Regions from separate parts of the Homo sapiens genome. Here region 2 is linked to region 1. Evidence: fine-mapped expression QTL. Tissue or cell type: whole blood. Region 1 holds a variant in brackets; the other region holds the start of a gene. All regions are shown on one strand. Distances are between the middles of the regions. Region 1 overlaps FBXO32 (F-box protein 32). Region 2 holds the start of FBXO32 (F-box protein 32).

Region 1 (8,000 bases):
GCTTGAACTTCTTCCTTATTGGCACTGACTGCTCTCAAGGCACCTAAAGCCCATCTTCAGCAGCCATGTGCACTTTTTCCATGGAAGTGGAGAGTCTTATCCTGATACCTCCTGCTTCTGCAGTGTTCAATAAACATGTCTATTAATTAGACTCTTTCACTGCACTTACATTTCTGTAGAAAGACGCCAATCACAGGAAGAGAGAGAAATTCAGGGATGTATTTTATATGATGTCACTGTGGCTAAAAACTTGGATCCTTGTAGCTCTTGGCCTTAGATTCAGGTCTTGATTTGAACATGTATTAGCTCCGTGATGATGGGCAAGTTACTATATTTCTTGGTGCCCCACCCAGTTTGTTCATCTATACTAATAATATTTAGAGTCTTTAATACAAGGTTGAGTATTTAATACCTTTAATACAAGGTAGAGTCAATAATACAAGGTTGTTGTGAGTGATAATAGGAGAATGCACATAAAGCCCTCAGCAAGTACCTGGCACTAATTAGGTGCTAAATAAAGGGTTTTCTTTGTTTTGTTTTTTGAGACGGCATCTTGCTCTGTTGCCCAGGCTGGAGTGCAATGGTGCAATCTCAGCTTACTGCAACCTCCGCCTCCCAGGTTCAAGTGATTCTCCTGCCTCAGCCTCCTGAGTAGCTGGGATTACAGGCATGTGCCACTACGCCTGGCTAACAGTTTTTTTTTTTTTTTGTATTTTTATTGGAGACAGGGTTTTGCCACGTTGGCCAGGCTGCTCTCGAACTCCTGACCTCAGGTGATCCACCTGCCTTGGCTTCCCAAAATGCTGGGATTACAGGCATGAGCCACCGCGCCCCGCCAGTTTGTTTGTTGAAAAAGTATGTCCCATTCCTACCAACCCCATAATTGCCAGACAAAAATAAATGAAGATAATAACTGAAGTTAGTGCGTACTTAGTCCAATCTTTTTTACCTTCTATAGCAAAATTCTTTACTGACATGGCAAGATTAAAAAACAAATAAAGGCCAGGTGCGGTGGCTCATGCGTGTAATCCCAGCACTTTGGGAGGCCAAGGCAGGTAGATCACGAGGTCAAGAGTTCAAGACCAGCCTGGCCAACATGTGAAACTCCATCTCTACTAAAAGTACAAAAAATTAGCCGGGCATGGTGGCACATGCCTGTGCTCCCAGCTACTCAGGAGGCTGAGGCAGGAGAATTGCTTGAAGCCAGGAGGCAGAGGTTGCAGTGAGCCGAGATCGTGCCATTGAACTCTCGCCTGGGCAACAGAGCAAGACTCCATCTTAAAAAATAAAAAATAAAAAACAAAGATCCTATTGTTGAAAAATGAAACTTTAGACTGGAAGGAATCTTAAGAGACCATCTAGTTTAATCCACTTAACAGATGAGCAAAGCGAGGCTCAAGAGACCCACCTTATGAGCCACTCCACAACTAGTGAGGACTCAGCAGAGTCCTTCTCAACACAGGAAAATATCACACTTCATGCTTTCAAAGAGTTAACAAACAAAAGAGGTTGATATAAAGTGAAAGTAATTAACTTCACGAGAACCCACCAGGCCCCCAGAGAAAACTATTAGGCTGGTGCAAAAGTAATTGTGGTAATAACTAGCCTGAGACTCAGTAGACTAGACACAGAGAACCGAGACCCCTCCTTTACACTGAAGCTAGAATCTCCGCTCCTAGGAAACTTTCTAAGAGAGTTTCATCTCCTGGCCAGGCCTCAGCCCAGCTTCATTTCAGATCAATAAACACTGAGCATGACACTGTGGTGGGTGCTGGAATCAAGGCTGAGGGAAGAAGCAAAATGAAATTTTAAAGATTGGGTTGCAGAGGAGAATGGAAACTTTTGGATCAACGGCCTAGGCAATTCAGAGCACCTCTGCTTCCATGGCATTTGCATAACATGTTTGTCCCCGTGGAGCTCTTTAGGAGCCTGTTAAACCACACACAGACTTTTAATTTCCTGAATGTAATTTTACTTTACATATTAAAAAAAGCCACCCCCAAACCAAACTCCTTTTTCTCCCTGGCTTCTGTATCTTTTCCACATGCAGGGAGAGATGAGGCTAGCTGACTGGGAGGAGGAGGTGGTTTGTTGCAATTAGTACTGGTGATCTAGTTGGAAGTCAGGAGCTCACCGAGTGTCTGCTGAAAGAGGCGGGAAATCAAAACACCAGTAGAGACCATGGCCATGGGCGGTGACCACACCGAATGCTGTGGTTTAGCTTTGCCACCAACCAGCACGTGACAGTCAAGAGAGGAGTGAAAATGGCACAAAGGGACTGGCCAAACCTTTCATTTACCTCCCTGACCAACAGCAAGATTCGGAAGGCCAAGATGATGGTCTATTAATACCCTGATCCTCACATGACCAACATGAAGCAGATGAAAGAAAACAAAAGCCTCGGGTCGGCTTTTGAAGGGCAGTCAGCTGTGCACTGTGACTCATCACTGGGTAGGAGGTGGGGCAAGGGGTTGGGAGGAAGGCAGCCAGAGCTCTGCCTGAAATCCATCCAAAACCCAGATTCCATGTGACTACCATCTCATGAGGGTGTCAGTTTTAATCTTGTCAAAATATGCACCAATCACAAGGACAAGTAAACTCTCAACACTATGACTGTGCACTGGAGGAGAAACGAACTGTCTTTGGTCTGATTATCTTCTCTAAGGAGAAGGAGGAATATAGCAGCAAAAATTTGTCAACTGACAGCATAACGACATGTTAACCATTCTGTGCTTCATCCTATCTCAAGGGAAAGTCCCCCCTACCTTTTTTTTTTTTTTTAACTGTCAGACAGCTGTGGAGTCAGGAGAAAGAACCCTGGAAGAGGAGAAGACCTGGATTCTCTAGCTGGGTGACCTTTGTAACTGTCATTCATTTAGCAAGTATTTTCTGAGTGTCCACCCTGTGCTAGCATCGTGGTAGGTGACAGGGACATGATGATGAAGACACATGATCCCTACACTCATGGAGTTTGCTCTTCAGCCTAGAGTGTAAGTCATTTAATCCCTCTGAACTCCTGATTCTTCATTTCTAAAATGGAAATAAAAAGACTACTTACTTCACAGGATTGCTATGAGAATTAAGTAAGATAAATATGTACAAATCCACAGTAAATACCAAACATAAGGCATTTTTATTATAAGATATTATTTCTTTCCCTTTAAACTCCAGTCTTTTTGTGAAGTTTAAAGTTGACATCAGGGGTTAGCAAACTTTTTCTGCAAAGTGCCAAACAGTAGGTGTTTTAAGGTTTGTGGGCCACGTGGTCTCTGTAGCAACTACTCCACCCTGAAGCTATAGCACCGAAATGGCTATAGACAATGTGTAAATGAGTGGGCATGGGTGTATTCCAATAAAACTTTATTTACAAAAGCAGGTGGAGGGCCAGATTTGGCACCTGGGCTATGTCACAGTTTCTGGTATATATCATAAGAGTTTAAGAGTGAGGGCTCCAGAGGCAAACTGTCTGCCTCAGTTTTCCCATCTTCAAAATATGCACAGTAATAGTACCTACTTCAAAGTTGCTGTGAAGATTAAATGTATTCACATAGCACTCATAACTGTGCCTGCTACAAAGAATATACTCGATAAATTATTATTGTTAGCTTTTACCATAATACAGAGCATTACCAAGTAAAATTATTGCCAATCAGGAAATAGTGAGTTAACAGGGCAAAGTGCAACCCATTTAAAGACCTTCAGAATTGCTGTATTTCAATTGTAGCTGTTGTCAAACAAATAAATAAATGCTTTCACACTGTAATATTCCTTTCTGTCATTTTACTATGTTGGTGATACATTTAATAGCACCCTATCTGTTGATAAAAGTTAATGCTGATACATTTTATGACTTGCATAGTTTTTCTACCATGGAGTCTTATTTTGCTAACAATAACAATAACAATGGGGTGCTTACTATGTGTCAGCAACTGCAGCTAAGCACTATACATTTGTAATCTTGTTTATCTTTTACAGCAACCCAGTGAGATAGCTTCTCCATTTAACCATTGAGGATATTGAGGCTCAGAGAAGTACTCACCTAAAGCCATACCAGCAGTAGCAAATGCTGGAGCCAGGACTTGAGCCCAGATATGTCTAACAGAGAACACATTTTCTTTTTTTTTTGTTGAGACAAAGTCTCACTCTGTCACCTAGGCTGGAGTGCAGTGGCACAGTCATGGCTCACTGTAGCCTTTACCTCCGAGGCTCAAGCTATCTTCCCACCTCAGCCTCCCAAGTAGCTGGGACCACAGGGGCACAGCACTATGCCTGGCTAATTTTTTTTATTTCTATTTGTAGAGACAGGGTCTTCCTAGTTACCCAGGCTGGCCTCGAACTTGTGGGATCAAGCGATCCTCGTGTTTCAGCCTCGCAAAGTGCTGGGATTACAGGCATGAGCCACTGTGCCTGGCAGAACATATATTCTGACAGTTTCAGGACTTCAGTTTGTCAAGGCCAATCAATTTGCATGGAGGGCCAAATTTTACTCCAAAATGGGAGCAATACCATTTATTGTTATGTTCTGGGGAAACAGAGTCTAGAAAATTTTATATAATATTGGGCTGGGCGTGGCGGCTCACGCCTGTAATCCCAGCACTTGGGGAGACTGAGGCAGGCGGATCACGAGGTGAGGAGATCGAGACCATCCTGGCTAATGGTGAAACCCCATCTCTACTAAAAATACAAAAAATTAGCCGGATGCGGTGGCGGGTGCCTGTAGTCCCAGCTACTCAGGAGGCTGAGGCAGGAGAATGGCGTGAACCCGGGAGGCAGAGCTTGCAGTGAGCTGAGATCACACCACTGCACTCCAGCCTGGGCGACAGAGCAAGACTCCATCT[C/CA]AAAAAAAAAAAAAAAAAAGAAATTTTATATAATAATATGTTGTGACTGGTAAACAACTTTTAATATTAAGGGCACTGTAATGCTCAGAAAGTGCTACCAGCACATTTAGGATGAGGCAACTGCTTTGGGTAAACCACAGAGTCTACTTTCCACATCAGCATCACTCTATAGGCCCAGAGCTACTACTAGGTAGTGATGTATGGAACTAGTAGTGAAGAGAGCAGAATTTACCGATTTTTAAATTTTTTAATTTTTGAGACAGAGTCTTGCTCTGTTGCCCAGGCTGGAGTGTAATGGCGTGATTTCGGCTCATTGCAACCTCCACCTCCCAGGTTGAAATGATTCTCCTGCCTCAGCCTTCTGAGTAGCTGGGATTACAGGCACCCGCCACCACACCTGGATAATTTTTGTATTTTTAGTAGAGATCGAGTTTCACCATGTTGGCCAGGTTGGTCCTGAGCTCCTGACCTCAGGTGATCTGCCTGCTTTGGCCTCCCAAAGTGTTGGGATTACAGGCGTAAGCCATCGCGCACAGCCCAAATTTATCGATTTTATTTGTGTTAAGAGAGCTGCGTGCCTAGGAAAGTAGGTTTGTATCTAGCAATCTGTGTACCAGGATGACTTAGCCAATTGGATTCTTTGCCCCTAGCCACAAGAGAAAAAAAGAACAGAGGAAAATGTCTTGTTTGGAAGTGGCTGCTTGTTTTTGACTGGGCAAATTTTAGCCCAGGTGCTAGTAATTTGTGGCTATGTTTAAAGAGAGGCAGGGGGAGGGAAGGGGAAGGAGGAGGAGGCTTCTCGGCTCCTCTGGAATTCCGTGGTGTCATTATCGTGTGGGCACTCTGGGCATCCGGCATGATCTGCAGTGACGAGCCGTGCAGTACCAGGAATGGCTCTGAGCTACTGGAGGGAGGGATGGTGGTCACCGCATGCTGAAACCACATCCTGCCCTTCAGCTTTGGCTCATGCTAGTTCTGGAGGCAACGAATAGGAGACAAATCTAGTTGCAAGCAATATCGTATAGCAAATCTCAGAGCGGATATCAACCAAAGTTTGAAGTGGTGTGTGCAAGACGAATGGGCAGAAGAGAGATTTCCCTCTTATCTCACTGCTCTCGTATCAAGAGCAGGCTTCTTACGTCTTCTTCCCTACAGTTTATTTTAGCATAGCATTCATAGTTTTAAAAATCCATCAGTTCACGTTACTTCTTTGCTTAAAATCCTCAAATGGCTTCTCCTTGCGCTTAGGAAAAAACTCAAGCTCCTTACCATGACTGGCAAGGTTCTCCCTGATCTGGTTTCTACCCCTTTTCCAGCCTAGTTTTGCACAAATTCACTCTGCTCCGGCTACACAGGTTATTCGTCTCTCGAATAGGCCAAGCTTATTCTCACCTCTGGGCCTTTGCCTCTGCCACATCTTTACATGCTCGGCTCCATCCCATCCCTCAGGTCTCAGTTCAAACGTGGCCTGCCCCGGGCTCAGAGGGCCCTTCCCTGGCCATCTTATGCAAAAACCTCCCTGTTGCCATCTTCACCTTACTATGGTTTCATTGTTCTTCATTGTTGCATTTATGCATATCTGAATTGGTCTTGTTCACTTACTTGCTGATAGGCTAATTAGGATGGAACCCTCAAGACAGCAAGTGTTGTCCTGTTTCCCACTCTACCCCCAGCTTGGCACATGGTAAGCACTCAACAAATAGTGTTTTTTAAAACATACATTTGTCTTTTTGAATCAAAGAGTGTTGTAGCTGGAAGGGACTCAGGAAACAGTTTACCCGAATTTCCTCCTGCTATAGATGAGGTGGCTCATGATGGCCAAATGACACATCAAGGTCAATGGTGGACCATCTGGCTGGTCAGGCTGATATCTATATGGAGACTAGTTCCAGACTGATGCCCCAGGAGTGGCATGGGCCTAGGAGTAAATTATTTATAATGCAAACATATCTCAAACACTTTCCAGAAGGGCAAGCAGCCTGAGATCTGGAGGGACAGTAAACACTTGGGCTTTCAGAAGCATCAACAAAAATAGCAGCTTCCTCTACCTGTTAGTTTAAAAGGACAAAACCACAAGGCTGCTGCCTAAGCATGCTCTATCATTCTCATACAGAATTGTTAAGAATGAGAACACAATTTATCCCCAAATTCCTTATCTCGTATAACAGTGGGGTGTTACAGTATGAAGTATGTGTCTGACTGGAAAATCTGCCAGAGTTATCAAAGGCAGAAACGAGTCCCAGCCTCAAGCAGCCTTGCCATGCCTCACATGCTCAATACCCAAGTTGGGTGCCCATCTATAGGAAGGTTGCGTCTTCTATAATAAACCTTTAGTTAGACTAGGCAGTGTCTCTCTCTGCTCTGAGTGCTGGGTACTTCCAAGACCCTTATTTACTCAATGAATAACACAGATAAAAAACCTGGAAAGTTTTGTTCTGACTTTGAGCTTGAACACTGACAGGTTGAAAGAGAAAAAAATTTCAGCGACATTAATAATCTGCAGGCATGTCAAGATTGGATAAATATTATTTGCAAGTGAAACAGCTCTCTTTTAACAGAGGGAGTTAAAATAATAAGGAGAGCCAAGTTTACATGCATTAATTGTATTCTCAGCAGAGAGAGACTTGCCTCTTCATCTTTTACCCATCCTGGTTACTTTTTTTTTTTTTTTTTTTTTTGAGATGGAGTCTCACTCTGCTGCCCAGGCTGGAGTGCAGTAGTGTGAGCTGGCTCACTGCAACCTCTGCCTTTTGGGTTCAAATGATTCTCCTGCCTCAGCCTTCTGAGTAGCTGGGACTACAAGTGCCTGCCACCATGTCCGGCTGATTTTTGTATTTTTAAGAGAGACGGTGTTTCACCATGTTGGCTAGGCTGGTCTCAAACTCCTCACCTCAAGTAATCCACCTGCCTCGGCCTCCCAAAGTATTGGGATTACAGGTGTGAGCCCCCACACCTGGCCCTGGTTACTTTTGAGTTGACAATGGCAGTTTATTCCCCATTACATCCATCTAACAGCGATGTCTGGCTTGGCGATCTTCCTTAAACTGAGCTCCCATCTATTCCAGCAACTGTCACCTCTGCCCTATGGTTCTATAGGCTGAATGTCACATCGCCATTGGCCCCTGACCCACAATCATTCCCCTTCACTTTTGTTCCTTCCCA
Region 2 (11,374 bases), 24 kb after region 1:
TAGTTTAGAAAGAATTTTACATAATTGATGATGTTCTCTCACCGTAGAATGTAGAAAAGTTTTAACCAAAGAGAAACCCTATATTTTCACTTGGTATTAGGTTTTAGATTCCGGAGGAAGGGCCTGGAAAGAAGGGCTATGGGGTTTATTTGTGTTGCCTACTTATAAGTTTTCTTTTAAGCAATAATATATTCAGTTAGAGGCTATTTTGAGAGTTCAATCGTGTCCTTTTCAAGAAAATGCAAAGCCAATGGAAAATTACAACTGAAATTTTTAACAAGAAAAACCACCACCATTTAGGAATTGGAGCACAGGATTTTTTTTTTTTTAATAAGCAAAACCATCTCAACGAGGCTGCTTTCTTCACTAAATTCAATAATAGCCAGCAAGTCGCTATTTTGTAGTCACTATTTACTAATCTTGATTTTTATAGGCACAGGCCTAGAATAAGAAAAAGATCCACTGCACAGCCCCACATTACCACATACCAAGATACTTTAAGGCAACTTTTTAAAAATGTAGAAAAAATTCAAAATCAGACCATAAATAAGTCTGTTTTGGCAGCAGATAAAGAAGGGAATGAAAAAAAAAATAAAGCCCTATTTCTCATTTCATTTGCAATAAAAACCATTTAAGAAAGCTGTGACGTGCCCCCAGAGGTTTAATTGTAGTTATATAGCCTGATTAAAGCCAGTAGAGATTTCTACACCAATTTACTGACGCATTTCTAGATCGCCACACTCACAAGGCTAGCACCCGGAATGCTCTGGTGAAACAAACAGCCTAGTGTATAACGCTCATAGAACAGTGCCTTGCACACAGTAAGCACTCATAAAATCTTAACTATTATTTTTATCCAGTCACCAAGGTAAACTTCCTGCTTCCGGGTCCAGCCTCAGCCATACAGTAAAGTAACATTTGAGTCAGTCTTCAATGACAGAAGTGTAGGCTTAGAAAAGAGTGGCAGAGGCTCAGACAGCTTAGGTTACTCATCCTGGGGGTGGGCGGTGAGGGGGTGGTTGCTGAGGAAGGCTGTGCGGGTGCCTGAACCACCACTTCCTTGAAGCATTCTTGGATCATCCCAATTCACGCCAAGCTCTTTCCTTGCATTTTAAATCTGCCCCAGCATATTTAACACTTGCCATTCCCCTTCTATTTTATATAATTTCAACATTTTTGAGAAGGGGTCCTGCTTTAAGCTTATCTTAAATCCTCCCATGATCTCACTCCTGGACACATGGCTGGGACTGGATTTGTAACATTCTACACTGGAGAAGGTTGGAGTCCTAGACCACAGAGAAGATGGCCAGCTGAGTCCAGAATAGGTGTGCTGTGTGGACAAGACTTGGTCAACACGAAACAATAACCCCAGGCTGAAAACCACCAAATGCATCCTTCATCCCGGGCTCTTGTTTGGGCCGTTTGCAGAATGGTCTGTGGAATTAGAGAAGTCAGTCTACCATGTCTCTGTAGTTCTCTGTTTCACGGTCCCTCCCCGCTTAAGGGCCTGCCTTTTGTTTTCTCATAACAGGAGAGGCATTCAGCTTCACCTGTGCAGGCAGGCACGCAGTCCAAACCTGACATCACGGGGAAACATCACCAAGACCAAAAACAGTGAGGATATTTGAGATGACAAACCCAGACCACAGAAGGCCAACTGCTTTTAAGAAGTTGCAGGCTTCTCATGCTAAGCAGGGAAGGGATTGTTTACAGTTGCTGGAAAAAAAAATACCCTGCAAACAAACAGCCAGCTGCTTTGCTAGGAGGCTACCAAATGATTCCTAAACGCTGACTCAAAGGACCACAGGTGGTCAGTATATCAATGACTATTTGCGGTAATGATGATGGATGTGACAGCTCCAGCTCAGGTGTGAAATGGGAAGAAAAAGAGGCTCATGAACAGGACACGGGAGGGGGGCTGTGCAGGAAACCACCTGATTCCAGCCCAGTCTAAACTTTTGTGGTAAGTTAAGACCATCTTCAGGTCTTCCATACTGTGAAGACAGAGATACCACTATTTCTAAAGGAGAGTGACACCAGTTTCTCTCCTGATGCCGGTATAGGGTATTTTAAAACAAATTTTAAATTTTTATTTATTTTTAGAGACAGGGTCTCGCTCTGTGGCCCAGGCTGGAGCGCAGTGGCACAGTCATGACTCGCTGCAGCCTTGAACTTCTGAGCACAAGCCATCCTCCCACCTCAGCCTCCCGAGTAGGGTAAGTATTAATACGACCCTACATTTTAAATCTTCTGCTGAACTCAATCATCTGTTCTCCACTGAGGAGCATCCTGCAATTATATTTGGGTGAGCAGCTCTAACATGACTCTTCAGACCCTTTCGGCACTTTTCTAGAAAGAACCTGAACTTGTATACAGAAATAAAGTACCAACATATTAGATCATTGTCCTTAGGAACAAGGAGGAAGGAAGGAAGGTTCCCATTTTGTTGAGGGAGAATAATTTAGGCATAATTGGTAACTCCAGTCGATAAAAGACATAGTCTGTCAATAGCAGTTGGTCTTACTTTCCCGTAAATAAATTACTTGATTTTACGTAAATAAGATTTCCTTATGGTGGTCCCTAAACTCCCCTGGGACAGCCTCCAAGTAACTCCAACGTAAATGGTTATATGCTGGTGGTTAATACGCTCAAGTCTCTCCGGACAGACCCCCAGAATTAAATAATGTCTTTCTTTACATTGTGAGACAATGGGAATTTGATGCATTACAAATCACAAACAAATGGGAGGCACGGGAGTTCAAGTTGCCAAAATAACCACATTTTCTTGATAGTTTTCTCAAAATTTATTGCCAATGCTTCATCCAAGCAACGACTGGTAAATCTCAGTAAGCGGGAACCTGGCCCAGAAACAGAATTCTCCATTGAAGTCAATTTAAGGGTGCAGGGGCCCATGGTTTTAACCAAAGGTGGCAGGAAAAGGCTCCCAAGGGTGACTCTGGCTGCACCAGTCCATTCTGGAATCACTTTCATCGCCCCCGCTCACCGGGCTAAATGCTGAGAGTCTCTGAAAGTCAACTGTCGAGGTCAGGGGCTGAGAAATTCCAGGCTACCTTGCGTACTAGCCGGCGCTGGCATCGTTAGCCAAGCTGAGCAGGGAGCGCAGCGGACCTCAGGTTTCCCGCCAGACCACAGAGCTCAGGTGAGGCCTCGAATCCAGAGGCTCACCGGGGCCAGGCAGGCTTTTCGCAGCTGACAGGCACCCCTGGAAACGGAGTGCACTCTATACAAAGCAGACCGACCGAGAGGGCCACCGAGGAAACAGGTGCAAGAGCCCTGTCCTCCCAGAAGCAGAGCTCTTGTGGGATTCATCCCCTGCCCCCTTCCCTCCTTTGCACCTCTGCAGCCCCAAGCCTCCACCGCTCGCAAGTCCGCCCAGTAAGCGGCTGCCCCAGGGACCATCTGGCCGTCCCTTCCTGGTTACTCATCCTCCCGGCCACTTCGTGGTTGCCCGTGCCTGGGCAGGGCCTGGAAGCGCTCCAGGCGGGACCTTCGTCGGATCCCGTCACCTGTCGCGTCCACAGCGCTTGGGCGCTGGGAGCCGGGCCACCCCGCGGTGAAGGGGCTCAGCCCACCCGCCCGCGCCCCCACATGGGCAAAGTGCGCGACTCCGGTGTCCTTAAAGCAGGGACCACTAAAGCTGTGTGATTAAGTTTGAGCGAACGTTTGGGGACACGATCCGCGAATGTCATCAGACTCTCAGAGGGACCAGGTGTTCTGTAAGGAGTCGTGTCCACTTGGAGACACTGACCTTGAACAATAAGAGAAACCGAATTCCCTGTCTCCGGTGGTCCGAAGACCTCTGCAGAAATCGGGCCCCGTAGTCCCACCCTCCGGGTCAGGGTCTCCCTCCTCAGCCCGCTCCAGCCCTGCCTGCCCCTCATTCGCCGTCCCTGCGCCCCCCAGACCAGCCCGGGTCAGTTTCGCGGGGGCTGGAAGTTGGTAGCGGGTCCCCTCACCTGCTGAGGTCGCTCACGAAACTGCCGCTCTTCTCATCCAGGAAGCGCTTCCAGCCGTCGGCCGTCTTCACCCAGTTCTGCCCGGGGGACCGCCAGTCCTGCCCGAGGAATGGCATGGCACCGCGAGCGGACTAGACGGATGGGGAGACGGGGCCGGCCTGGTGGGCTCGGGGACGTGCCACCCGGGGCGGATGCTCGGGGTGCAGGGGCCCGCGACGGGGGCGGCGGGGCGGCGGGAACGGCGCGGGGCACCCTGCGGGGTGGCGGGCGCGGAGAGGATCTCAAGCGTTGCAGGCTCCGGGAGTGCTGCGCGGCAGTAGCTGCCGCAGTATTTATCCCCGCAGCCGGCCGCAGCTCTTTGTTGCCGGAAGAGCCGCCCGCTCTTAGCCCGGCCCCCCGGCCCGGAGGCCACGTGGCTTTGTTTATGGGCTCGGCTTGTTTTCCGAGGCGCCTGCGGCTCACGCTCCCCTCCCGGTTGCACAACCGCGCCGGTGGAAACTTGAAGCGGTGCTGCCGGGCCGGGTACCCCGCCGCCCCTGGCACCTCCGCGCGCCCTCCCCGCCCCCAGGACACCGTTGTCCCAGAGCGAGGCCCGGCGCTTGGAAAGATGCGCCCCGGTCTCCTGCAGCTCCCGGGCTGACGGGGTGCAGGGAGGGGGCCGGAGGGGCGTCTGGGTCCCTGCGGGGTGGGCGTGAGGAGCAGGGCCAGCCCCCCTCCTGCCCCCGAGCTATCAGGATCGACCTCCGCAGCCAGATCAGCCTCCCGGGCCGTCCGCAGAGCTGGGGCCGGCACCGCGCCCGCCGGGCGGGGAGTAGGGGGCGCAGCCTCCTGACCTCGCTCACTGCCCCAACCCCGCCCTAGCGCGCGGGGGTTGGAGCGGGGAGGAGGGACAGCCTCCCAGCCCTCCGGGCCCCTTAGCTGTCACTAACCAGTCCTCCTTCAGACCTGCCCCTGGGGCAGCAAAGGAGGGGAAGGAGAGGAAGCCCTGGGAGGTATCTGGCTCCCGCAGGTTGGGAGTGGAGAAAAAGAACAGCGCCCCTATCCTACCCGAACCCTCTAAGAGACGGGTTAAATGATGTACCCAGGGCCAATGCTACAGTACAATCTGAAACTACCCTGTTTGCTTTTACTTTTTGCTGTTGTTACAACAATCTACCCCTGTCTGCAGTGGGAACTCCATGAGAGCTGGTCTGTCTTGTTCCGGAGGCATTTCAGCCCCTGCACCCTGCCAGGCCCAGTGCAGGCCTTCAACAACTATTTGTGTGAATAAGTGAATGGATACGGGAGGCTGCTGGCATGAGGGTGGCTTCTTGCCCTTCATCACCTCTAGTTATGATGCTTTACAGCCTGGTCTATTTGGCAATTAGTTTGCACAGGACAGCAGCAGCAGAGTAAAAATCCCATACTCAAGCATTAGCTTCAAACTTCATTCTTCCATTCTTCTTTCTCTGCAGCCATCAATATCATCTAGTCCACTGACTCGGTGTAATCTTTAAGGCTCAGGCAAAGAAATTGTGTGTGCCCTATGAGGCTACATGTTGGACTGGGAAGACGTTTTTAATAAAGTTTGTTTTCAAGAAGCCAGAGCTTTCTGATTTAGATTTCCCACCGTAAATAATTTATTAGTGTAGTAATAGTAAAAAAAAAGCTTGTAAAAACATTGAAGAAGTCCCAAACAAATGTTAAACACTGTGATGGTGCTAACAAATGAGGCAGTGTTGGGTCTGGTCTCTGTTGGAGGGAATTGGTATCTGCATAATTAAGGGATGTGATTATTATTATTATTATTTTTGAGACAGGGTCTCATTGTGTCACTCAGGCTAGAGTGAGTGATCATGGCTCACTGTAGCCTCAGCCTCCCCAGCTCAAGCCATCCTCCCACCTCGGCCCCAGTCTCCAGTAGCTGAGACTACAGGCACTCACCACTGCACCAGGCTAATTTTTTATATTTTTTGTAGAGATAGGGTTTTGCTATCTTGCCCAGGCTAGTCTTAAACTCCTGGGCTCAAGTGATCCTCCTTCCTTGGCCTCCCAAAGTGTTGGGATTACAGGCGTGAGCCACCATGCCCGCCTGGGATGTGATTATGAACAATGTGGGTTAGTTATGTATTAGTAAGCTGGCTACATACCTGTAGAGACCACAGAGGGCCAGAAGGTAGAAGTTTTGAATTCTAATTCTGCTGGAGCAGCATACTACCTGTCCTCCCTTGGATGAATGACTTAAACTCTTAGGGCCCCATTTACTTAACTGTCAAGAAAAAATGGAGCCAATAATGCCTACCTTTCAGGATGGTTTAAAAGCTGTGGTAGATTGAATTATTAGTACCCATTCTTCCCTCCTTTCCAGTAGCGTCATGTGCCCACACTTTTTGGTGATGTGTATTTTTCTAATTCTTGACAATGGGCTTGGCCATATGACTGGCTTTAGCCAAGGGGATGCTGATGGATGTGATGTGAGCAGAGGATCTGATGTATGTACTTGCCTGGTTGGTCTTGATGTTTTGTGTGTTCACCTGCTCCATGAAAAGAGCATACCCTGTGTAGCCACTGCTCCTGGAGTGGTTTGAGTGACATCCGTGTGTCCCAGGATGTGACACATGGAGCAGACACTCCCGTTGACCTCACAGATGTGTTAGCAAGAAATAAATGTGTCTTGTTGATGCCACTGAGATTTTTGTGATTTACTGTTACACAGCATTATTGTGTCGATAGCTGACTACTATAAAGGGTTGAGTGGCTCAAAGTTGGTGAAAGTTTCTTTAACTTCTAAAATTCAAGCACAAATAGGAAATTACAATTATTTTTGTCCTTGTCTTTTTGTCTAATAACTAATCTTAGGAAGCCTCAGTGTTTGTCTCTAGTCCTTCCGCTTTCTGTTCCTTAAAACAAACAAACAGAATTGTTGCTATCATATCTTAATGCAGGCTTCTTCTGAAGTGTGATTGACTATTTCAGATTTCTCTTACCATAAAAAAATCTAATTTGAGACTTCTTTTTTTTTTTTGAAACAGAGTCTTGCTCTATCACCCAGGCTAGAGTGTACCGGTGCAATCATGGCTCACTGCAGCCTTGAACTCTTGAGCTCAAGTGATTCTCCTGCCTCAGCCTCCTGAGCAGCTAAGACAACAGGCGTGCACCACCATGCCTGGTTGATTAAAACATTTTTTTTTTGGAGAGATGGGGTCTTGCTATGTTGCTCGGGCTGGTCTCAAACTCTGGCCTCAAGTGATCCTCCCGCCTTGGCCTCCCAAACTACTAGGAGTACAGGCATGAGCCACCATGCTCAGCTGACACTTATTTAAACATGGTTTCTACTGGGAAGTTTTGTAATGCTGGACCCCTCAAGATAAAGAACTTGCTAGGCTATGTCCAGAACAGTTACCTTCAAATCAGATGGGGGCTTGAACTTTGTAAAGACTCTGTGATTGTAAGCCCTATCATAGCTGAGCATTTGAGAATCACCAAAAGCAAAATATCAATGTTATAGCTTCAGGCTGAAGACATAGAGACAGATAGATACTCAGAGAATTTCACAAGGCACAGCACAGACTGGTCAGGACCCCATGTAGCCTAATGGTGTGTGCAGTGTACATGATGTATGTACCATGGCTGTGTGTTTCATTGCTTAGACACTTAGCTACTGCCTTTCCTGCACTGTTTTGTATAACACATTACCCAGATTACATACTGGGTGTTTGATTTTTTGTGTTTTCTTCTCCTGTCTAGGACTGTGAGCTCCTTGATGGCAGGGCTGTGTCTTAGGAGTTTAGTGCCACAGTGTCTAATAAGGTTCTTGGTACACGGTACATTTACATCAACAAATCAACAAATGGGCCCAACGCGGTGGCTCACACCTGTAATCTCAGCACTTTGGGAGGCTGAGGCAGGTGGATCACCTGAGGTCAGGAGTTTGAGACTAGCCTGGCCAACATGGTGAAACGCCATCTCTACTAAAAATATAAAATTTAGCCAGGCGTGGTGGTGGGTGCCTGTAATCCCAACTACTCAGGAGGCTGGGGCAGGAGAATCGCTGGAACCCGGGAGGTGGAGGTTGCAGTGAGCTGAGATCGCGCCACTGCACTCCAGCCTGGGTGATAAGAGTGAGATTCCTTCTCAAAAAAAAAAAAAAAAAAATCAACAAATGTTGTTGAACTGACCTGGAAGGCTGTTATTCCCATGTCTTTACCTGTTGACATTTTATTACTTCTAGGGACATAGCAGGGTGGAGCAAAGGGAGGGTTGGCAGCCCCCAGTCCTACCTCGTATAGCTGCATTCTCCAATAGTGATGCTTTATGGGTTAGTGAGGCAGATGGGGAAGGTAGTCAAAAGGTGGTATCTTAGAAAAAATATGTTTTAATGTCCTATTCCATTGATGATAGATGCCTGCCATGCTGAGGACAGTGTGCCAGTCACTTCACAAACACAATCCTGTTACATACTCCTCATAAACCTGTGGGCTAGGAATTGCTATTCCCATTTTATAGATGAGGAAACTTCAGCTCAGAAAAGTTGAATAGCCTGCGTGAGATCACCTAGCAAATGTGGTGGGACTCCAACTGGTACCCAGGCTTATCTCTAACCCTGACTAGAGCCAGACTCACTGGGTTCAAATCACATTCCCCACCTAAAAAGCTGTGTGATCTTGGGCAAGTTACTTAACATCTCTGTACCATACTTCCTTTATTTGTAAAATGGAAATAATGATAGTACCTACCTCAAAGGGTGTTTTGAGGATTTATTGAGATAATATGTATGAAGAACTTCTAACAGTGCCAATGACAATGGGTCTTTATTGTCATTATCTTTATGCAAAGTTTACACCTCCATCTTTTACTCGGTTAAGCCATGTCCACCTTCCCCATCAAACTGTAAGTTTTGAGGGCATGGAGCGTAGCTCACTCAGCAAATTTCCAGATGTGGGACAAATGTGTCTATTGGGGTACAAGTATAATGAAATAATTCCTTGCATCTTACTTGAACTATGGAAATGGGCCTTATTCTGTAGAACATGTGGAAGATTATATTTTCTTTTTCTTTTCTTTTCTTTTTTTTTTTCTGAGATGGAGTCTCACTCTGTTGCCCAGGCTGGAGTGCAGTGGTGTGATCTCAGCTCACTGCAACTTCCGCCTCCGGAGTCCAAGCAATTCTCTGCCTCAGCCTCCCGAGTAGCTGGGATTACAGGTGCCTGCCACCACACCCAGCTAATTTTTTTTCTATTTTTTTGTATTTTTTTGAGACGAAGTCTCACTCTTGTCCCCCAGGCTGGAGTGCGATGGCGTGATCTCGGCTCACTACATCCTCTGCCTCCTGGGTTCAAACGATTCTCCTGCCTCAGCCTCCCGAGTAGCTGGGATTACAGGCACCTGCCACCATGCCTGGCTAATTTGTGTATTTTATTTTATCTTTTTTTAGTAGAGACGGGGTTTCTCCATGTTAGCCAGGCTGGTCTCGAACTTCTGACCTCAGACCTCAGGTGATCCGCCCGCCTTGGTCTCCTGAAGTGCTGGGATTACAGGCGTGAGCCACCGCACCTGGCCTTTTTTTGTATTTTTAGTAGAGATGGGGTTTCACCATCTTGGCCAGGCTGGTCTTGAATGCCTGACCTCGTGATCCACCCGCCTCAGCCTCCCAAAATGCTGGGATTACAGGGGTGAGCCACCGTGCCTGGCTAGAAGACTGTATTTTCAAAGGTACACACAACATAAATTTAGCCCGTCCACTTCCTCATAAGACTGTTTACAGAAATTGTTTGTAGAAAGGACTGTGAAAAAAACATTTTGTTGCTTCTAAACCAAAATGACATTCGTTTATAGCTTTGGCTGAGGGACTGACTACTTCTCACTGAAGTGCAATGATATTTTGTTTTTTCATAGTTTCTCTTTCTGAAAGGGTTTTTTTTTTTTGGTGAAAAATACTTATCAGCAGTAGTTGTAAGTTAAAAATAACTTTAGCTTGTCGGGTAGGGCAGGAGCAGAAATCAACTAAATCTGTTGAAGTTAGAGGGAATTTTATAAAGGAGGAGCTAGAGGAATTCAGTGTATTAAATTCAACCTGTTAGTGTGGTCACAAGGAATGTATGTTTAATGTCACAACAATTTGCATATGACCTTAAACCCCATCTGTCTAGGGTGGGGCATCCCTGAAACAGTGTGAAATACGTCTGTTAGGTGTGTGAGCAGGAATGGCCAGCTGTGTGTTATTTTTGGGTCTCTGGCTGCCGCAAGTCCTGCCAACTAAATTAAAGGCGGTCAGACATATGTCATTGAAAATATGCTCATTACTTTAATGAGAATCATTTGGCATTCCTCAAATGTGGGCCTGGTTCTCTTTCTGAGAGAGGGTCAAGGGGATTTTGTAATCCTCCTCCCTTTGTAGGCCAATTGCTCAGTTTTAATGAAAGTTCTTTTTTTTCTCTTAATAAATAGCAAAAAGAATTTGAAGACAAGGCTGCTAACTTTTGTGTAATATAAGGAAATGAATGAAACCACAACATTCCCATCAATAGGCCAAATTTCTAGTGTATCTTTACAAAAAGAATTTAAAGTGAGGATGTTAAATTTGTTACCGTCGATTTGTAGGTTAAATTTGTTATGGATGCAAAGCTTTCAATACAATATTAGTGCCTGAAATTGGTTAAAACCAGCCTATCAATAATCCTTCAAACGGTATCTTGGATGACTGAGTGTCAAATTTTAGTTCTGAGATTTTTCATATGCAAAAATAGCTTGGACTGAAATTTGTCTAGATATGTGTCTGGTGGTTTACTTATATCAACAGTGTTCATATAACTTTGCAAGGTAGATATTTTTATTCCCATTTTACAGATGAAGAGACTGAGGCTCAGATGTGTTAACTTACTCATAGGTCTGCTTAAAAATCTAACAGGAGCTGAGTACAGTGGCTCATGCCTGTAGTCTCAGCGACTTGAGAGGCTGGGGCAGGAAGATCGCTTGACCAACCAGGAGTTTGAGACTAACCTGGGCAACATAGCGAGACTCTGTCTTAAAAACAAAAACAAAATTAAAAAAACCCAGAATAGATCTTAGAGGTGACCTAGTCCAATCCTCCTTTACCCATGAGAAAGCTAAGGCTCACAGAAGAGAGACTCACTGAGGTACACAGAGCTACCTGGTAGCAGCAGAATTGGGCACCATGAGACCAAACCAGCAGGGACAGAATATTCCATTACACTTACTGTTCTGACCAATGTCCCTGAGAAATGTAATTTTGAAGTAAAATTCAAATAATCTGATTTACACATTCCAGTAACTGAATTTTTTCAGGACTTCTCATCTAATGAGTTTAGTCCAAAGAACACAAGAAAAACAATAACAGGTACTTAAGCCCCGAAAGCGATTACTCTTCAAAGTCAACCAGAATCCTAGAGAAACAACAG

The links.
Region 2: it holds the start of FBXO32, and the variant in region 1 is fine-mapped to the expression of FBXO32 in whole blood (INTERVAL, PIP 0.96).

The regions. Positions count from the first base shown.
Region 1 is chr8:123,514,712-123,522,711 of GRCh38, forward strand. The region is part of intron 4 of FBXO32 (F-box protein 32); the gene reads right to left. Among named protein-coding and RNA genes, the nearest start is that of FBXO32, 22 kb to the right of the region's middle. The variant C/CA (reference allele first, on the strand shown) is at 4,839.
Region 2 is chr8:123,536,922-123,548,295 of GRCh38, forward strand. It overlaps FBXO32 (F-box protein 32), which reads right to left and starts at 4,285. Exons shown (of 9, transcript NM_058229.4): 1 at 3,978-4,285. The coding sequence starts at 4,093. RefSeq lists silencers at 4,182-4,271, 4,322-4,431, 4,522-4,811.